3 linked regions of the Homo sapiens genome follow. The protein of the gene in region 1 purifies or fractionates together with the protein of each later gene. This does not show direct contact. Each region holds a gene or a part of one and is shown in the gene's direction. Other genes may lie near its edges.

Region 1 (7,032 bases):
TTACTTTAACTATTTTCTGGCCAGGCGTGGTGGTTCTCATGCCAGTATTCCCAGCACTTTGGGAGGCTGAGGCTGGCAGATCACTTGAGGTCAGGAGTTCGAGACCAGCCTGACCATGGTGAAACCCAGTCTCTACTAAAAATACAAAAACTTAGCCAGGCATGGTGGCACACGCCTGTAATCCCAGCTACTTGAGAGGCTGAGACAGGAGAATCGCTTGAACCCAGGAGGAGGAAGTTGCAGTGAGCTGAGATCACGCCACTGCACTCCACCCTAGGCGACAGAGCGAGACCCTGTCTCAAAAAAAAAAAAAAAATATGGCCAGGCGTGGTGGCTCACGCCTGTAATCCCAGCACTTTGGGAGGCTGCGGCAGGTGGATCACCCAAGGTCAGGAGTTCGAGACCAGCCTGGCCAACGTAATGAAACCCCATCTTTACTACAAGTACAAAAATTAGCCGGGTTTGGTGGTGGGTGCCTGTAATCCCAGCTACTCAGGAGGCTGAGGCAGGAGAATCACTTGAACCCAGGAGGCAGAGGTTGCAGTGAGCCGAGATTGTGCCATTGCACTCCAGGTGGATGACAAGAGCGAAACTCTGTCTCAAAAAAAAAAATATATATATATATGTAATATATATATTTTATATAAAAATGTGTAATATATTTTATATAAAAATATGTTATATATGTTATATATATATTTTATATTTTTTTAGACAGACACACACATATAAAATAACTATTTTCTGACGTTGAAATTTTCGACAATTTTCACGTTTTCCTAATTCCACTGAGTAATTTGTGAGTAATTGTTTACTTTTTTTTTTCTTTAAATGTTTTCAGGTATTTGACTGGAATGGTTGACAAAAGGACGCTTGAAAAGTATGAAAGAGAAGCTAAAGAGAAAAACAGAGAAACTTGGTATAGTAAACTTTTATGACACTTATAAATTACTTTTAAGGAGACGATGCCCACTTAGTGCTTTTGGAGCCTGTTAAAATATAAATTGTTGAAGTCTAAAATCGTATCACAACAAAGGAAATTTCCCCTCTCCTCATAATACACAGTAGATGAGTTCCTAATGCTTTAATAACTTACACAGAGAAATTTGGAAACAATCCATATATCTGGTGATAGACTTGTTGAAAATACTATAAACCATCCATTTAATTGGGTGATTTTGCAACCACTGAAAACTTACATTTACATAATTTATAGTAACCATGAATAGAACTTGCGTTGTGGTGGCAGTTGGGGGGAAGCAGGAAACATCCCTGTACTTAAGATATGACCATTATATAAATAAATGCTGGAAATAAAATGGAATGGAATTATTGACAGTGGTTGCCTTTGAATGGTGAGACAGTCAACTTTTTTGTTTTCTAACCTTGTTACTTTTATTTTTAAAAAGTTAGCAAGCCTTACCTCAATGGGATATTGACAGTCATTTTTTTAAAATAAAATTATATTCCTCTAAAATAAGCGGGAGAAATGCTAGTCAGTGTTGTTATAAAAAATTGAGGACATGCTGTGAAGATGATGAGGTAAGCTAAATTAATGCCCACTATTACGGATGGTTTGAATTTATATGAATTTTTGCCTGGCAGTGTGATATTGAAGCAATTTTTAGCAAGTAACCATTGCTCCCACATGGTGCGTTAGTGGCTTTCAGTTTTCAAAAATATCTGAGGACAGTTATTTTTTATTTTATTAAAAAGTTTTAGTCCTGGCACAGTGGCTTAAGCCTGTAATCTCAGCACTTTGGGAGGCCAAGACGGGCGGATCACGAGGTCAGGAGATCGAGACCATCCTGGCTAACATGGTGAAACCCCGTCTCTACTAAAAATACAAAAAATTAGCTGGGCAAGGTGGCAGGCACCTGTAGTCCCAGCTACTTGGAAGGCTGAGGCAGGAGAATGGCGTGAACCCGGGAGGCGGAGGTTGCAGTGAGCCGAGATTGCACCACTGCACTCCAGCCTGGGCAACAGAGTGAGACACCATGTCAAAAAAAAAAAAAGAAAAAAGGAAAACAACTTTTATTGGGCCAGGCGCGGTGACTCAAGCCTGTAATCTCAGCACTTTGGGAGGCAAGGCAGGCAGATCACACCTGAGGTCAGGAGTTCGAGACCACCCTGGCCAATATGGTGAAACCCTGTCTCTACTAAAACTACAAAAATGGCCGGGCACAGTGTCTCACGCCTGTAATCCCAGCGCTTTGGGAGGCCGAGGCAGGCGGATCACCTGAGGTCAGGAGTTCGAGACCAGCCTGACCAACATGGAGAAACCCTGTCTCTACTAAAAATACAAAATTAGCTGGGCATGGTGGCGCATGCTCTAATCCCAGCTACTCGGGGGGCTGAGGCAGGAGAATCACTTGAACCTGGGAGGCGGAGGTTGCGGTGAGCCGAGATGGTGCTGCTGCACTCCAGCCTGGGCAACAAGAGCTAAACTCCATCTCAAAAAATATATATACAAAAAGTAGCCGGGCGTGGTGGTGGGCACCTGTAATCCCAGCTACTTGGGAGGCTGAGGCAGGAGAATAGCTGGAACCTGGGAAGCAGAGGTTGCAGTGAGCCGAGATGGTGCCACTGCACTCCAACCTGGCCAGAGCAAGACTCCCATCTCCAAAAAAAAAAAAAAAAAAAAAAAAAAAGAAGAAGAGGGGTGGGGGTGCCGGGCACGACCTAGGCTCTGTTGCCCAGGCTGGAGTGTAGTGGCTCCATCTCCACTCACTGCAAGCTCCACCTCCTGGGTTCACACCATTCTCCTGCTTCAGCCTCCCAAGTAGCTGGGACTACAGGCACCCGCCACCACGCCTGGCTAATTTTTTGTATTTTTAGTAGAGACAGGGTTTCACCGTGTTAGCTACGATGGTCTCAATCTCCTGACCTTGTGATCTGCCTGCCTCAGCCTCCTAGAATGCTGAAATTACAGGCGTGAGCCACAGCATCCATCCAAAAAAGTTTTATTATTACCCTTTAACTCTCAAGACAGCCATTATTTGTGTTGTATTTTGTGCCATGTGAGTATAAAAATGAAGTAATAAGGGAGCTCATTATCACTTAACACACAGTGATATTGGCATTTGTAGTTAGTCTTTCTGTGTAGTCAACTTGCCATAAAGTTCTAGATGGTATAATTGACTGCGTTTATATAAAAGCTCTAAGGGTTTGAATCAAAATAATACATTCTTTCAGTTTTATTTTATTTATTTATTTTTTTGAGACGGAGTCTCACTGTGTCACCAGGCTGGAGTGCAGTGGCGCGATCTCAGCTCACTGCAACCTCCGCCTCCTGGGTTCAAGCGATTCTCCTGCCTCAGCCTCCCGAGTAGCTGGGACTACAGGCGCCCGCCACCATGCCCAGCTAATTTTTGTATTTTTAGTAGAGATGGGGTCTCACCATGTTGGCCAGGATGGTCTCAATCTCTTGACCTCAGGTGATCCGCCTGCCTTGGCCTCCCAAAGTGCTTGGATTACAAGCATGAGCCACTGCACCTAGCCCTTTTTTTTTTTTTTTGAGAGACAGAGTCTCCCTCTGTTGCCCAGCCTGGAGTGCGATGGCACGATCTTGGCTCACTGCAACCTCTACCTCCCAGCTTCAAGCGATTGTCCTGCCTCAGCTTTCGAAATAGCTGTGACTACAGGTGTGCACCACTATGCCCAACTTTTGTATTTTTAGTAGAGATGAGGTTTCATCATATTAGCCAGGCTAGTCTCGAACTCCTGACCTCAGGTGATCTGCCAGCCTCGGCCTCCCAAAGTGCTGGGATTACAGGCGTGAGCCACTGCGCCCAGCCCTATTCTTTCAATTTCTTTGTTTTCTTTTGAGACGGAGCCTTGCTCTGTCGCCCAGGCTGGAGTGCAATGGCACGGTCTTGGCTCGCTGCAACCTCCTCCTCCCAGGTTCAAGCGATTCTCCTGCCTCAGTCTCCTAAGTACTACAGGTGGGCTCCTCCACACCCAGCTAATTTTTGTATTTTCGGTAGAGACAGGGCTTCACCATGTTGGTCAGGCTGGTGTCGAACCCCTGACCTTGTGATCCGCCGCCTTGGCCTCCCAAAGTGCTCAGATTACAGATGTGAGCCACCGCACCCGGCTCAATTTTCATTTCACCAATCTTGTTCGTGATTTAGGTGTTGTGTGTCATCCATTATATCTTTAATGGTGAAGAATATCCTAAAAACTCTGATGTTCTTAGGAATATTGTTCTTTTTTTAAAAATTATTTCAGGTACTTGTCTTGGGCCTTAGACACAAATCAGGAAGAACGAGACAAGGGTAAAACAGTAGAAGTGGGTCGTGCCTATTTTGAAACCGAAAAGAAGCATTTCACAATTCTAGATGCCCCTGGCCACAAGAGTTTTGTCCCAAATATGATTGGTGGTGCCTCTCAAGCTGATTTGGCTGTGCTGGTAAGAAAGACATTTCCAGTCCATCTGTATATTTGTTAGTAGCCCCGCTTATATCTTTAAATTTGAATTTATCTTCTAAAAGCTCAAATTCAGGTTGCAGTGAAATATAATGATGTACACGGTCACAGTTTTCATCATACTAATCTCTCTTCAAGAAATCTTCAAAATTTGATTTACTTCTGAAAATACGTTTCACCTTTTCTCTCCTGTTGCTATTATCTATTACCATGTCAGAACTTAGTCTCCATTAAATGCCAAGCCCACCGTTAGGCACCATGGGTAAAAAATGAATAGGAAACCATCTGTTTCATACGGTCTTCAGTCATTTTGCGCTTTTCACAATGTACTGGTAGTAGATCACAATTTTTTTTCCTTTGTAGTTACAATAGCTAGAAAGTAAATGTTGGAATTTTAAAATATGCAGGTATACTAGATTTTGGGAATGTGGGGGATTGGAAGCATCTAGACATTGTTTGATTTGTGACATTCAAAAGCAGGTACGTCATAACTCGTTTGCTTCTATTTTCTTGCAAAAAAAAAAAAAAAAACTCGTGATATAACTGAAAGGAAAGATGTTTTACTGCCATAAGGGTATGCCTGAAGGCGAAGGAGTAAACTGTTTCCTTTCTTGGAATTAGGTAATCTCAGCCAGGAAAGGAGAGTTTGAAACTGGATTTGAAAAAGGAGGACAGACAAGAGAACATGCAATGTTGGCAAAGACAGCAGGTGTAAAACACCTAATTGTGCTAATTAATAAGATGGATGATCCAACAGTAAATTGGAGCAATGAGAGGTGAGCGTAGATGTCTGGTATTTTATGTTAGTGGGATTAAGGATGGTTTTGTTATTGTACGACTTTTTCTCTAGGGTTTTTCTAAACCTTAATCTGTTTACTTAGGAAACTAGAGTTCTTGGTTTACATTATAATTGAGTTATTTTGGTTACATTATAATTGCAGATATGAAGAATGTAAGGAGAAACTAGTGCCATTTTTGAAAAAAGTTGGCTTCAATCCCAAAAAGGACATTCACTTTATGCCCTGCTCAGGACTTACTGGAGCAAATCTCAAAGAGCAGTCGGATTTCTGTCCTTGGTACATGTAAGTAACTGTTTTTTCCTTTTTTTAAAAAGGAAAAGGATGTTATTACTTAAATTACTTATAAAGACATATGCTGAGTAACATGTTAACATATGCTTTTGAGCATATATCTTTATAAGTAATTTAAGAAAATATTAAATGTAACCTTGGCTTTAAAAATACTAAGATCTTTGCCCATTTTTAAACTGGGTTGTCATTTTGTTACTGAGTCCTAAGAGTTCTTTTTAATACTGGCTACCAGTCCCTTATCAGCTACAATATGATTATAGCAAGTATTTTCTCCCACTTTATGGATTGCCTTTTTTCACTTCTCGATGGTGTCCTTTGAAGCACAAAAGGTTTTATTTTTGAAGTTTTTTACATTTAGATATGTATTTGATTTTGAGTTAACTTTTGTGTAAGATGTAAGGTCTATGTGTAGGTTTGTTTTGTTTTTGTATATTAATTGTTTACACACAATTTGTTGAAAAGACTATTCTTTTTTCATTGAATTGATTTGGCTCCCTCTTTGAAAATCAAATGACCATAAATACGAGTTTATTCTTGAACTCCGTGTTTCTTTTTTTTGGTTTGTTTTTTTGAAACAGGTTTTCACTCTGTTAACCAGGCTGGAGTGCAGTGGCATGATCTCGGCTCACTGCAACCTCTGCCTCCCAGCTCAAGAGATCCTCCCACCTCAGCCTCCCAAGTCGTAGGGACTGTAGGCACATGCCACCGCACCCGGCTGATTTTTGTATTTTTAGTAGAGACAGATTCACCATGTTGCCCAGGCTGGTGTCGAACTCCTGGGCTCAAGAGATGCACCTGCCTTTCGGCCTCCCAAAGTGCTGGGATTATAGGCATGAGCCACTGCACGCAGCCAATACTGTATGTTTAAAGGGGAAATTATTTTATAGAATCTTGGTTTCATAGCTGGAAAAGTCCATAAAAAGTAATATAGTCAATTTATTACATGTAGGCTATTTGCTATAAAATATTTCTCTAAATTTTAATAAGTTTATGAGGAAGCCTTATACTGAGCAGTTTTATAATAGTTTTCTGTGGAATAAGTGAGATGAAATGGATAATAAAGTGGTTGAATGGGAAGAATACATGAGTAGAATGAAAATATTATTAGAAGCTGTTTATAGTCATGTAACTTAACATTTTGATATTTATGTTGACTTCCTTTAATGGCTTTGTTGTTATGTTCTCAGTGGATTACCGTTTATTCCATATCTGGATAATTTGCCGAACTTCAATAGATCAGTTGATGGACCAATCAGGCTGCCAATTGTGGATAAGTACAAGGTACCCAAAATGTTAAAGAAATTGGGTTTCCTGGGAGGGGAAATCATTGTTGTGCATTTTGTTTCTAGTTTTGAAAACTTTTTTTCTTTTCTTTTCTTTCTTGTTTTTTTTTTGACAGAATCTTGCACTCTGTCCCCCAGGCTGGAGTGCAGTGGCGCGATCTCAGCTCACTGCAAGCTCTGCCTCCTTGGTTCAAGTGATTCTCCTGCCTCAGCCTCCTGAGTAGCTAGGA
Region 2 (6,507 bases), on another chromosome or scaffold:
GTAAGGAGTGATCTTCTATCCTTGCTTATCTGCCTAGTAGTCAAGTTGGCATTTGTTAAGAGAGCAGAAGAGCCATACCTTGAATTGTCCCCATTTTCATTATGATGGTGTGGCATTTTTATTCACATACCTTACTGGCCCATCTCATTGGTAGAGAGTTATGGAGTGATGCACTTCTTTACTTCCCTATCCTCCACTTCAGGAGGCTCTCTGGGCCATTAACTAAGACATAAAACAATGACAGTCACACCAGAGAAGACAGTGAATAACCTTGTCTATTAGGAAGAATGCCATTTGTGAATGATGAACTTAATGTGGGAAAAGACTGCCTGAACCAGTAGACCTGTGGTTTTGTAGCTGTTTGGAGTATTTCTTGGAAATTGAGCCTCAGGAAGGCAAGTGAGACTAGAATCTAGGCTGCCTATCTCTGAGCTGGTCATCTCATTGAATTAATGGTGGCAGTCATTGGTTACCTGAACATTTTAGGACTCCTGTCCACACGTGGTATTCCAAAAGTGTTATCCTGACGTTGGTAAGAGCTTGTTAGAGTTTGTCCACCGAGGTCTTGAAGCATATGAGATATGAAAATAAATTGCTCAGTACTACTCTCAAGATGTTTTGTGGTTACCCGGAGTAGCTATCCACCAGGTATCAGGAAACATCTTTGAGTTCCTGGTTTTATTATTAGCCATATCATAGTGTTTCAGAACTTTAGCATCACCTGGGGACTCAAAGAAAACACCTAGATACCTTAGAGGTTGTGACTTAGTTGGTCTGGGGTAAATCCTGTGCCAGAACCCTGACCTAGACTCAGTGACTGCAGCAGAACCCAGGCTTTCTGGTTCTTCTGAATAGTTCCCTCCCCACCCAGGGACATCCTTTTTTTTCCTATTTGTAGGTTTGTTTTGTTTTTTTTGTTGGTTTGGTTGGTTGGTGTTTTTGTTTTGTTTTGTTTTGTTTTGTTTTGTTTTGTTTTGGAGATGGAGTCTCGCTCTGTCGCCCAGGCTGGAGTGCAGTGGCGCGATCTCGGCTCACTGCAATCTCTGTCTCCCGGGTTGAAGCGGTTCTCCTGCCTCAGCCTCCTGAGTAGCTAGGATTACAGGTGTGTGCCACCACGCCCAGCTGATTTTTGTATTTTTAGTAGAGACGGGGTTGCACCATGTTGGTCAGGATGGTCTTGAATTCCTGACCTCGTGATCCACCCACCTCGGCCTCCCAAAGTGCTGGGATTACAGGCATGAGCCACTGCGCCTGGCCCTTTGTTTTTTTGAGATGAGGTCTCACTACATTGCTCAAGCTGGTCTCAACCTCCTGAGCTCAAGCAGCCCTCCCACCTCAGCCTTCCAAAGTGCTGGGATTACAGGCACAAGCCATCACACCCAGCCAGGGACACCTTATTTCTTAAGTAGCTGGTCTCATTTTGTAGGTAATGCTGGAGGATGGAAGAAGCAAAGGGTTTGGCTTCGTCTGCTTCTCATCTCCTGAAGAAGCAACCAAAGCAGTCACTGAGATGAATGGACGCATTGTGGGCTCCAAGCCACTATATGTTGCCCTGGCCCAGAGGAAGGAAGAGAGAAAGGCTCACCTGACCAACCAGTATATGCAACGAGTGGCTGGAATGAGAGCACTTCCTGCCAATGCCATCTTAAATCAGTTCCAGCCTGCAGCGGGTGGCTACTTTGTGCCAGCAGTCCCACAGGTGGGTGTGCTGTTTGGTCACAGCTCTTGGGAACCTGCCGGCTGGCAGTATTCTGCAGTGGTTGGGGAGAGGGATTTTTCGTTATTAGAGTTCTAGAATGTCACAATAAGGACCCTTCAAGTAAAAATGAAGGACTTACCCATGGTCACAAACACACACCCACAGTGGCAGTGGTAGCATAAAACAGTCCCCATTAGCTGACCCCTCAGCTCTTGAATAGAAAGAACATTTAAATAATTAGCTTAGGTCCTGGTTAGTGAGATGAGATGAGATACTTCTCTAGGATGGGTTCAGTCCTTAAGGGGGTGTTTGGGTATTCTTCTGTCTTACAGGCTCAGGGAAGGCCTCCATATTATACACCTAACCAGTTAGCACAGATGAGGCCTAATCCACGCTGGCAGCAAGGTGGGAGACCTCAAGGTAGGTGGTGGGGAACAGTAATTGACAGCCCAGGATATACCTGTCCTGGTCTCCCCTGCCTTTCCTTCTTCCCCACTCTGAGGCACAGCCTAGGTTCTGGTCCACATCACTTCTCAATGATGTGCAATTTTTCTCTTCACCAGGCTTCCAAGGAATGCCAAGTGCTATACGCCAGTCTGGGCCTCGTCCAACTCTTCGCCATCTGGCTCCAACTGGTAATGCTCCGGCCTCTCGTGGCCTCCCTACTACCACTCAGAGAGTCGGTGAGCAAACTGGCCTTTAGAAGTGTGGCCTGGGGAGGAGGGAGTCAGGATGACTAGGCTCTGTCCTGGGTTGGTCAGTTTGTTGGGCTCGAATTTATCGAGTCCTGGTTCTGTAATCTTAGCTGTGTGCTTAGGTGGCCACTTCAGGAGCAGAGAAACAGTATGAGTTCTAGGTGTGTCAGTTGCTTTTAACATTCTTTGCTCATCGGTGACCTATGTGAAAAAGGTTAGTTGTAGAAGTTTGCTAGCTGGATGACCACAGAGGCAGCTTGTTCTTTTGGGTGGGGTGAGGAATACAAGGAAACAGTGTATACAGAATATGTCTTGTATTCCAAGATGTGGAAAGAGTTGTATGTTATCCTTTGGCTCATCCTCGAAAGTAGTAGTGGCCCCCTGTGCAATGTGTTGCGTAAACGTGCTTTGAAATTTCTCCTTCCGTGGGACGTGGCCAGTTGGACATCTGCCGCCAACACTGATGTGCATTTGCTGGTCTGTTGTAGGGTCTGAGTGCCCGGACCGCTTGGCTATGGACTTTGGTGGGGCTGGTGCCGCCCAGCAAGGGCTGACTGACAGCTGCCAGTCTGGAGGTGGTATTGGATGCACACAGAAGGGGGAAAGATGGGATTTGACGGGTCTTTGCCCAGACTGATGGGCTTTAATTGTATTTGTTCTTTCCCTAAGGCGTTCCCACAGCTGTGCAGAACTTAGCGCCACGCGCTGCTGTTGCTGCTGCTGCTCCCCGGGCTGTTGCCCCCTACAAATACGCCTCCAGTGTCCGCAGCCCTCATCCTGCCATACAGCCTCTGCAGGTGAGGTTCACCAGACAGAATGCTTAAAAGGATTTCCCCCATTTCCACTTGATGTAAAAGAAGCTGTGCTTTTGATTCCTTCAACAGGTATTAAATGCCTGCTCTGTGTTATGACGCTATGTTCTGATTCACTGTCCCTGCCCTTCAGGGGCTCACTAGTGGGAAAGAAGGGGCTTAAAAGTGCTCTGCCTGATGCCAGTTCACTCAGAAATGCCTCAGAGCGGGCAGCCAGTGCTTCCTCTTCTGTTTGTACGAAATAATGTGCTCATTCAGCTGTTTGAGCCTCCAGGTCACTTCCGCATCCAATGACCTATTGGATCCTTGGCTGCTCTGCAAGATGATTGGTACATTAATGCAGGAAATAACTTCAACTTACAGATCGGATGTTCAGCTTCAAAGATGTAAAGTGTGTGTAGGAGGTGAAGGGGTTGAACCTAGAGCTTAGATTTTCTAAGCTGTAACTTGCTGTCTCTAGACCTGTGCTCTAGATGCAACTAGTTTGTTTCAGAGCCTAATAGCAATTTGCTGTGGAGGTGTCACCCTAAGCCTTCAGGCCCATAAGCTGCTTAGGAGATTACTCTTTAACTGTCCTGTCTCATACTCTCTAAGTTGGGGATTTCCTAGAACTTGATGCTATGTAAAATACCTTTTCTTTGCAAGGCTTTGACTAGCATTGACGTTGCATGTTGACCGTTTTTAAGCATTTGATACAAAAACATTTGGTAGAATTAAGGTGATGTGGAATGTAATTATAAATGTGTTGATATTTACTCCCTTTGATCCAATCTGCACTGAGATTTACCCTAAAGGAAAACTAATTTTCAGGAAAAGGTTATATACAAGTGTTTACCCTTATTTATATCAAGGCTTTTCATTCTTGAGTAACTTTGGGTGTATTAAGGAAATGTCAGAAAATGCTTGCCTAGCACTATAGGTTTGTTTTATTATTTACGTTTCACTTCGCTTTCTGATAGCATGCCATTTTCATTGTAATTGGTTGTGTTTATGTCCATACCACTCTGTTCCTCAACACACCCCTCAATCCTTCAAGGACTGAAATTAGTTCCTTTAGAGCAAGGACAGCCACCTCCTCTCCTCTTTCACATAGTCAGATGTTCAGATATTGAACAGGCACTCAACCACCATCAGGTGTTGTCCTTTCCTCAGTGCTAACCCACTGCCTTTCCTGGTTCCCAGGCACCCCAGCCTGCGGTCCATGTGCAGGGGCAGGAGCCACTGACTGCCTCCATGCTGGCTGCAGCACCCCCCCAGGAACAGAAGCAGATGCTGGGTGAGTGACCCACTTGCTTGCAGAAGAAGAGGGTCCCAGAGCCTGATGCCAGCTAGGACACCAGTGTCCATTGTTTACTGGGATTTGATTTGTTTTTTTATTAACTATCCTCCCCATAGGAGAACGCTTGTTCCCACTCATCCAAACAATGCATTCAAATCTGGCTGGGAAGATCACGGGAATGCTGCTGGAGATAGACAACTCTGAGCTGCTGCACATGTTAGAGTCCCCCGAGTCTCTCCGCTCCAAGGTGAGCTGGGGCTCAGACCCTGCAGCTTCAGTTCTCAGCTTGGGAAGACTGGGGGCAAACTTGGATGCCCAGGTGCAGCAGAAAGTGGGATCTGCTGCCCCCAGGACCCCTCTCGTCATGCCTTGACTGTGACTGGAGGCTGCAGTGGGTATTTGGGAAAGTAGTTAGCACCAGAAGCCTAGGGATCATCTGTACAGTTGGCTTTGGTCCACCACTAGGTCTGGGCACTGGGGAGGGGTGGAGTAGCTCTCCTAGATTCACTGACCACCTGAAGATTTCTCGCAGGTGGATGAAGCTGTAGCAGTTCTACAGGCTCATCATGCCAAGAAAGAAGCTGCCCAGAAGGTGGGCGCTGTTGCTGCTGCTACCTCTTAGACAAGGAAAAACCGTATGTGTGGCTATTTTCATTTTTGTTCCTATGAGCATTGTTCCTATGAGCATTGTCTTTGTGGTTTGACCTGAGGTTGTATATATGCTCACTGCTTAGCTCTGGGAATACAATAAGTACAGTTAGTTACACGGAGTGTGTTGCAGGTGACTTCTTATCATGAGGACTGTGGACTTTGTCTGCAGGAGCTTGAGTGAATAATAAAACTAGTACTGGTTGATGGTTGTAGGTGTCTCCAGATAGGGAAAGAAGAGACAGTAAAATAAGCTAAGGAAAAAGCACATGGTAAGGACCAGAGCTGGTGTGTTGGGAGGGTTGACTTGGCATAGTCATGACCCTCTTGTCAAGGGCCTCAGGAGCCTTGTCATCTAGTGGTAAAGACCAGAGATGCTGCTAAATGTTGTACAGTACACAGGAGGACAGACCCAACAGAATGTCCAAAGTGTCAATAGCACTGAGGTTGAGAAACTCTCTTCTAGAATACCTTCCTTTATCCACTATATGTTAATGAATCTAAATTATTTGATTATGCATTTATTTGTGTTGGTGCTTTTCTTTACAGGATTCAAAAGCCAAATAACCCCTTATGGAATTCAACTCAAGGTTTGAAGACTTCCTAGCTTGTCCTATGGACCTCAACACCAAGGATTACAAATTGCAAATTTAATAGGTCATTTTGTATCAAAAGGTCAATTATGAAGCACCTAGAATTTTTCAATTATACGAATATGTTCTTTGGGTTCTGCTGTGGCCCAGACAGTGTTAACTTTTTTTTTATTGTGGGTTTTGATTTTTTCCCCCAGAAATTGGTTTTATTTGATGTACCCAAGTCTTACGTTTCCCAATAAAGAAAAAAAATCTCCATAAAACTGCCTCTGTCTCTGACCACAGTTTTACTCTATGAATTCCGGTTTTCACTGGAAGTAACTTTAGGATGTGAATTGGTTCCAGTGATAGTTTATTCTTTCTTGACTTGAAGCTGACAAAGATTAGCAAGATACACAGAACTGTTAAATATGATCCTGTCCCACACTGTTCTGTTACAGTATGATTGTTACATTAGCCCCATTTAACTTAGAGGGAACAGAGATCTGATGTGGTCAGAGCAGACCATGGGTCTGGCCCAGGAAAATCTGGGGCAGAGTGGGGTTGGCGCACACCCCAAGGACATACGGTGAGATCTGCAGATCCCAGTTGGTTAGTTGAGCCCCGTCCTTCCCTTCCTGAACTCGGTTGGGGTGTGTCCTGTCCCCTCTTATTTCCTGCAGTCAGTTTATGCTGCATTCGAGTCAGCGGATCCAGTTCCCCAGATTCTGCAACCAAGTTTTCCCCTAGCAGGGAAAATGGGAGGTCTGTGACTATAGCAAATGGTGCTGAAGTCTTCAGT
Region 3 (5,292 bases), on another chromosome or scaffold:
AAAATGAAACACTCAATAAGGAGGAAGATTGCCACTCTCCAACTTCTAAACCTCCCAAACCTGATCAGCCCCTAAAGGTAATGCCAGCCCCTCCACCAAAGGAGAATGCTTGGGTGAAGCGAAGTTCTAACCCTCCTGCTCGATCTCAGAGCTCAGACACAGAGCAGCAGTCCCCTACAAGGTGAGTCAGTTTGGAAACAGTAGTTGGTTAACTGCAGATTCTAAAATACTGTGATGTAATGATGGAAGATCTCCTACGGGATGCCAGCGTTGTATAGCACCTTATAAGTTATGCTGGCTTTAGTCTCTTAGTGTGCTGGAACTGGCTCATAAGACCTAGTTGTTCCATTTTCTGGAGTTCCACCACTTTGATAGCTTGAAATCAGCTATGATGGGAGTACTAATGCCGCACAAATCTGCAAATACTGTAAGTCAGAGGCTTCCCTTTTGCCACATATTGGCAGTATGGTAGGGGGTAACTTCCTTTCATTTCTCTTAAGTCTTCTCATTTGTAAGCAAAATAGCAACACTATTAGCCTGGCGTGGTGGCAGGTACCTGTAATCCCAGCTACTCGGGAGGCTGAGGCAGGAGAATTGCTTGAACCTGAGAGCGGAGGTTGCAGTGAGCCGAGATGTGCCATTGCACTCCAGCCTGGGCGACAGAGTTAAGACTCCAAAAGAAAAGAAAATAGCAATACTAATCCTGCATGATGTGATGATTAGAAAGCATATGGCACTTTAGTGTTCAAATTACTGCTTTCATTGTAATCTTTCCCATATTTTAATGTTCCATAACATTGAGTATGATTTTGTTTTCTATAAAGCTTACCCACTGCATTTGGAGGATGATTATGTTTCTTGGTTGTTTTCTCCCTGAAACAACTGATGAATGTGATTACCTGTTTTCCTTCTAGTGGTGGGGGAAAAGTAGCTCCAGCTCAACCATCTGAGGAAGGACCAGGAAGGAAAGGTGAGCTCATAGTATGGGAAATAGGTTTTTCACCTAGAAGCCTAAATAAAAAGGCCTCCAAAATTAGATTTTGAAGAGCAGTGTGTCTCGCACCTGATACCGTGTTAAGAGTTCTTGGGTTGGCCAGGCGCAGGGGCTCACACCTGTAATCCCAGCACTTTGGGAGGCCAAGGCGGGCAGATCACAGGGCAGGAGTTTGAGACCAGCCTTACCAACATGGTGAAACCCCGTCTCTATTAAAAATACAAAAAAAATTAGCCGGGTGTGGTGGCACATGCCTGTAATCCCAGCTACTCGGGAGACGCTGAGGCAGGAGAATTGCTTGAACCCGGGAGACGGAGGTTGCAGTAAGCCAAGATGGCCCCACTGCACTCCAGCCTGGGCGACAGAGCAAGACTCTGTCTCAAAAAAAAAAGAATTATTGGGTTATCTACCTTTTCTTGCCAGTAGAGGGAGGAGTGGCCTCTTTGGAGAAAGTATGAAACCCTGCCCTTTCCTGGTAGAACATTTCTTTGACGGGGAGAAAAAAATCGGAAGGAAATTAACCAAGGTCACTACAGAGCGTCATAATCTTTATTTCCAGCTTGCTTTTCATGATGGCATATCCCTACATGGAACTTTTTAGTGGATTTTGTTTGTTTTTTGTATTTTTGTGTGCTGTAGAGGATGTGGAAAGAAGGGCTTCAGGAAGGAAGTCTGGGTTGGGGTGAGGTTAGTTTCCCTCAGTACATGTGGGCACAATTTTCTTCAGCTTAAGGGAAATCTTAGGAGAGGGACATTGATACTTTTACTTGCCTTTAATTTGTTTACATTACTGCCCAAGCAGATGAAAATAAAGTAGATGGGATGAATGCCCCAAAAGGCCAAACTGGGAACTCTAGCCGTGGTCCAGGCGACGGAGGGAACAGAGACCACTGGAAGGAGTCAGATAGGTATGCTTGTTCTCTTTCTCATCTTTCCTCTGATCCACATGTTTGTGTAATTAAGAAATTAAGTTCTTGGTTCTCAGAGCACTGCCAGATCGCTCATTGTGAGCAAACTAAAGTCAGCCAACGTAGACAGTTAAGATTCTGAAAATCTAGAAGTAATACATCATCCAGACAACAAGGACTGTTGACTAGAGGTGCCTGTTCAGTGCCTTGAAACTGCATGCATACACATGTTTGTATTAGGCGAGTCCTTTCCTAAAGACATGGTTTTATGCTTACGTCTCTGCAGGAAAGATGGCAAAAAGGATCAAGACTCCAGATCTGCACCTGAGCCAAAGAAACCTGAGGAAAATCCAGCTTCCGTAAGTGTTGAAGGCTGCTCCCAATTTTTCATTCTAAGAAAAATTCTTAGAATTCTAAGTATTCTTACTAAGAATTAAAAATTCTTAGTATTCTAAACTTTTTGCCGTTGGACTTCTTTCCATTTGGAATACAAAGTGTTTGGAAATAAGACATTGGTCTTTACTGAAATAGCGAAAGAAGTTTAGCTTTTTCCTGGTTTCTGTCTTCCTTTGTTCTCATCCCTTCTGCAAGGTGTAGAGGTGGTATGAGACTATAGTAAGATCGCATGTGCCTCTGACCCTCTTCCCTAGCTCCTCTCCAATGGACAATGCTGATGAGCAAGCAAGTGGGTGTCATCTGACTGTCATCCCCCATTGCCAAAGGATCAGTATCCTGTGTCTTGGGTTTTGATGTGATAATTCAGGGCCTTCATTATCCTGTCACTCTCGTTGTGTTACAGAAGTTCAGTTCTGCAAGCAAGTATGCTGCTCTCTCTGTTGATGGTGAAGATGAAAATGAGGGAGAAGATTATGCCGAATAGACCTCTACATCCTGTGCTTTTCTCCTAGTTTCTCTCCACCCTGGAACATTCGAGAGCAAATCAAAACCTCTATCCAGACAAGACAAAATAAAACTCACCATCTCCTGAAGACCTTTCTTACCTTTTTTTAAAAACAAAAAATGAAATTATTTTGCATGCTGCTGCAGCCTTTAAAGTATTGAAGTAACTGGAGAATTGCCAATACAGCCAGAGAGAAAGGGACTACAGCTTTTTAGAGGAAAAGTTGTGGTGCGTTATGTCACCATGCAGTTGCCAGTGTGATTAGTGCCTAGGGGTCTCCATTTAGCAGAAATGGTAATGACAGTGATATAATGCCTGGAACCTGGTTGGGCAGTAGGGGAGGGAGGTAGAAGGAAAAGTGTGAGATTTCTACCTTTTAGTTTTTATCCTATTGTGGCATATATGAATTCTCAAACATTATCTGAATAAATTTTCCACTCTTGGAAAGGTAGATTTAGCCTCAAGTTGTTCTAGTCTCCAGGAGGCTGCCAGCCCCTCCTCTTATTTAATTCTGAGTTTTGGGGGCCAGCCTAGAGGGAATTCCTTTTTTTTTTTTAACCCCCCAGGGGGGTAGTTGGGAGTGAGACTATAGGCCATAAAGAATGGGACTGCATTGGACCAAAATAAATGGGAAAATCGTGGTTTGAAAAGAAGCTTTTGGGAAGTGATGAGTCATTTTGCACCAGGTAATAGGGGAAAATTGTGTGACCTCCAGCAAACACATGAATGGTTATTTCCTGGAGCCGGAAGCACTTGGGGGTCGTGGTAATTCCCAGTGTTTTCTGTGTCCTAGTTTTACCCTTTCTAAACACTGTCCTTTTTGAAAGTTTTGAATATATCCACATTCTATTGAAACCTTGAAACTAAAAATTTAGACTCTTATCATCATCTTAAGTTCTTCATGCTACTCTTAACCTCCCAAAAAGCAGTATCTAAGTCACATACATGATGTCTTGGGCATTTTCTCAGCCATGGAGAACTCTGAAAGGAAGAATCGCTGCTTTTCTCAAGCAAATCGGTTTCTTGATGTCTTTTGGTTCTCCTTGCCTGCTCCTGATGCTTGGACCCCTTTTATTGATCAGAGTGCTCTAGAATAATGGATGGTCTTGGATGATGGATAAATAGGGACAGGGACAGTTAAATTGGGAGCCTTTCTTACAACCTTGATGGGATTTTTCCCCCCAAGTTTCCTTCTCCACTGAAATGCCACACTAATGCTTGTTGGATTCATGAGGTGGCCAGACCAATGTGTTGTTTTGTTGTTGTTTTTTTAAGCTTCCCTTGAGAGAATAAATGGTAATGGAGAGAACTATTTAACAAGGTCCTGGTTTCTCTTGCAACACAGTAGCTAAACTTGCCTGCTTTTATATGCATTTTTGTAGGGATCAGCTTGGTAGACAGTATTAGCGGAGAAACACCTTGATCTTGGTTTGCAAGCCCTTCTCCCATCAGTCCTAGATTAGGCCCTGTTCAGCCATGCAGGGGTGTTGGTTTATGCGTGCTGCAGCAGTGGGCATAATGAATATAATTTACCCAGTGGACAAAGGTGTGTACCAAGTGAATTTAAATAATTGGTGTGGATTGGCCAGTAGCTAAGAAGTGGGCTTTTAAAGAGTATTGAAGATTGAAAGGGTTTTTCTTTCTTTTTTAAAAAAGAAAAACAAACTATTGATTGTAGATAATGAAAAGCTAGGGTTTGCCCTCTTCATGTCTACTCTCCTTCCAAATAGTTATATCCAAAACTGTTTTTCCCTCTCCCCTACCTTGTCCCCCCTATTAAAATAGAAACAGGGATTGATTAATGTCCCGCTCCTGAATACATGTAAAATTTGTACAAAAATATCTTCTATGAAAATGATTTGTAATCTGTAGACTTATTACCTGGGAGATGTCTTGATGTAAAATCCCATCCTTTGGGTTGTGGGTTTTTTGTTTTCTCCAAATAAATCTGATCTTTAAAGTTCATTGTAATGCTGAAGTTCTTTGACAAATACTCTGCACTCCCAGTGGTTTTTACTGTAGTCATTGACCACCTGCTCCTCCTCCTCCTACCATCTCTGAAGTTTTCATTCAGTATTGGATACCATATTGTCCAAGATTAGAGGGTGGGGTTACAAGGGAATCTATTTCAGTGTTTATTGAGGCCCAATAATAGAGTTTGCATCCTAGCTCCCCTCTGGCTTTTTTTTTTTTTTTTTTTTTTTTTTTTGCCTGGTGTTAAATTTTTTAATCACCTGGATGTGCCTGCAGTCTATTTCCTGTACTGTTTATTTTAATCAAGATGTGGGAACTCTAAGAATGAATCCTTGTGTCCTTGGGGCAGTTCCCTCATAATCTCCCTCCCTCACTTCAGCAATCTGGAGAGATGCTGCTCCCTTGAGTTACACCGCACTGGTGGACCAGAGATACTGGTGACAGGCTGGTCGAGGTTACCAGAACAGAGGCTCACAGACTCAGTGGGAATTTTCCAAACAGCTAGGGACAGACTG

What was found. The genes of interacting proteins can lie anywhere in the genome.
Region 2: the proteins of GSPT1 (region 1) and PABPC4 purify together in Homo sapiens (affinity purification with mass spectrometry; 2 studies listed by BioGRID and IntAct, with this or other methods). This does not show direct contact.
Region 3: the proteins of GSPT1 (region 1) and EIF4B fractionate together in Homo sapiens (co-fractionation; 2 studies listed by BioGRID). This does not show direct contact.

What each region holds. Positions count from the first base shown.
Region 1 is NC_000016.10:11,884,949-11,891,980, reverse strand, and holds part of GSPT1 (eukaryotic peptide chain release factor GTP-binding subunit ERF3A), read left to right. Parts: intron 1-841; coding exon 842-919; intron 920-4,230; coding exon 4,231-4,411; intron 4,412-5,049; coding exon 5,050-5,204; intron 5,205-5,369; coding exon 5,370-5,510; intron 5,511-6,706; coding exon 6,707-6,800; intron 6,801-7,032. UniProt on the Homo sapiens protein: GTPase component of the eRF1-eRF3-GTP ternary complex, a ternary complex that mediates translation termination in response to the termination codons UAA, UAG and UGA.
Region 2 is NC_000001.11:39,560,298-39,566,804, reverse strand, and holds the end of PABPC4 (polyadenylate-binding protein 4), read left to right. Parts: intron 1-1,426; coding exon 1,427-1,699; exon of another isoform or gene 1,700-1,735; intron 1,736-2,031; coding exon 2,032-2,119; intron 2,120-2,262; coding exon 2,263-2,382; intron 2,383-2,882; coding exon 2,883-2,969; intron 2,970-3,063; coding exon 3,064-3,191; intron 3,192-4,388; coding exon 4,389-4,482; intron 4,483-4,601; coding exon 4,602-4,732; intron 4,733-5,017; coding exon 5,018-5,107; 3' UTR 5,108-5,120; intron 5,121-5,682; 3' UTR 5,683-5,989; downstream 5,990-6,507.
Region 3 is NC_000012.12:53,037,442-53,042,733, forward strand, and holds the end of EIF4B (eukaryotic translation initiation factor 4B), read left to right. Parts: coding exon 1-181; intron 182-914; coding exon 915-970; intron 971-1,796; coding exon 1,797-1,902; intron 1,903-2,188; coding exon 2,189-2,261; intron 2,262-2,701; coding exon 2,702-2,782; 3' UTR 2,783-4,774; downstream 4,775-5,292. UniProt on the Homo sapiens protein: Required for the binding of mRNA to ribosomes. Functions in close association with EIF4-F and EIF4-A. Binds near the 5'-terminal cap of mRNA in presence of EIF-4F and ATP.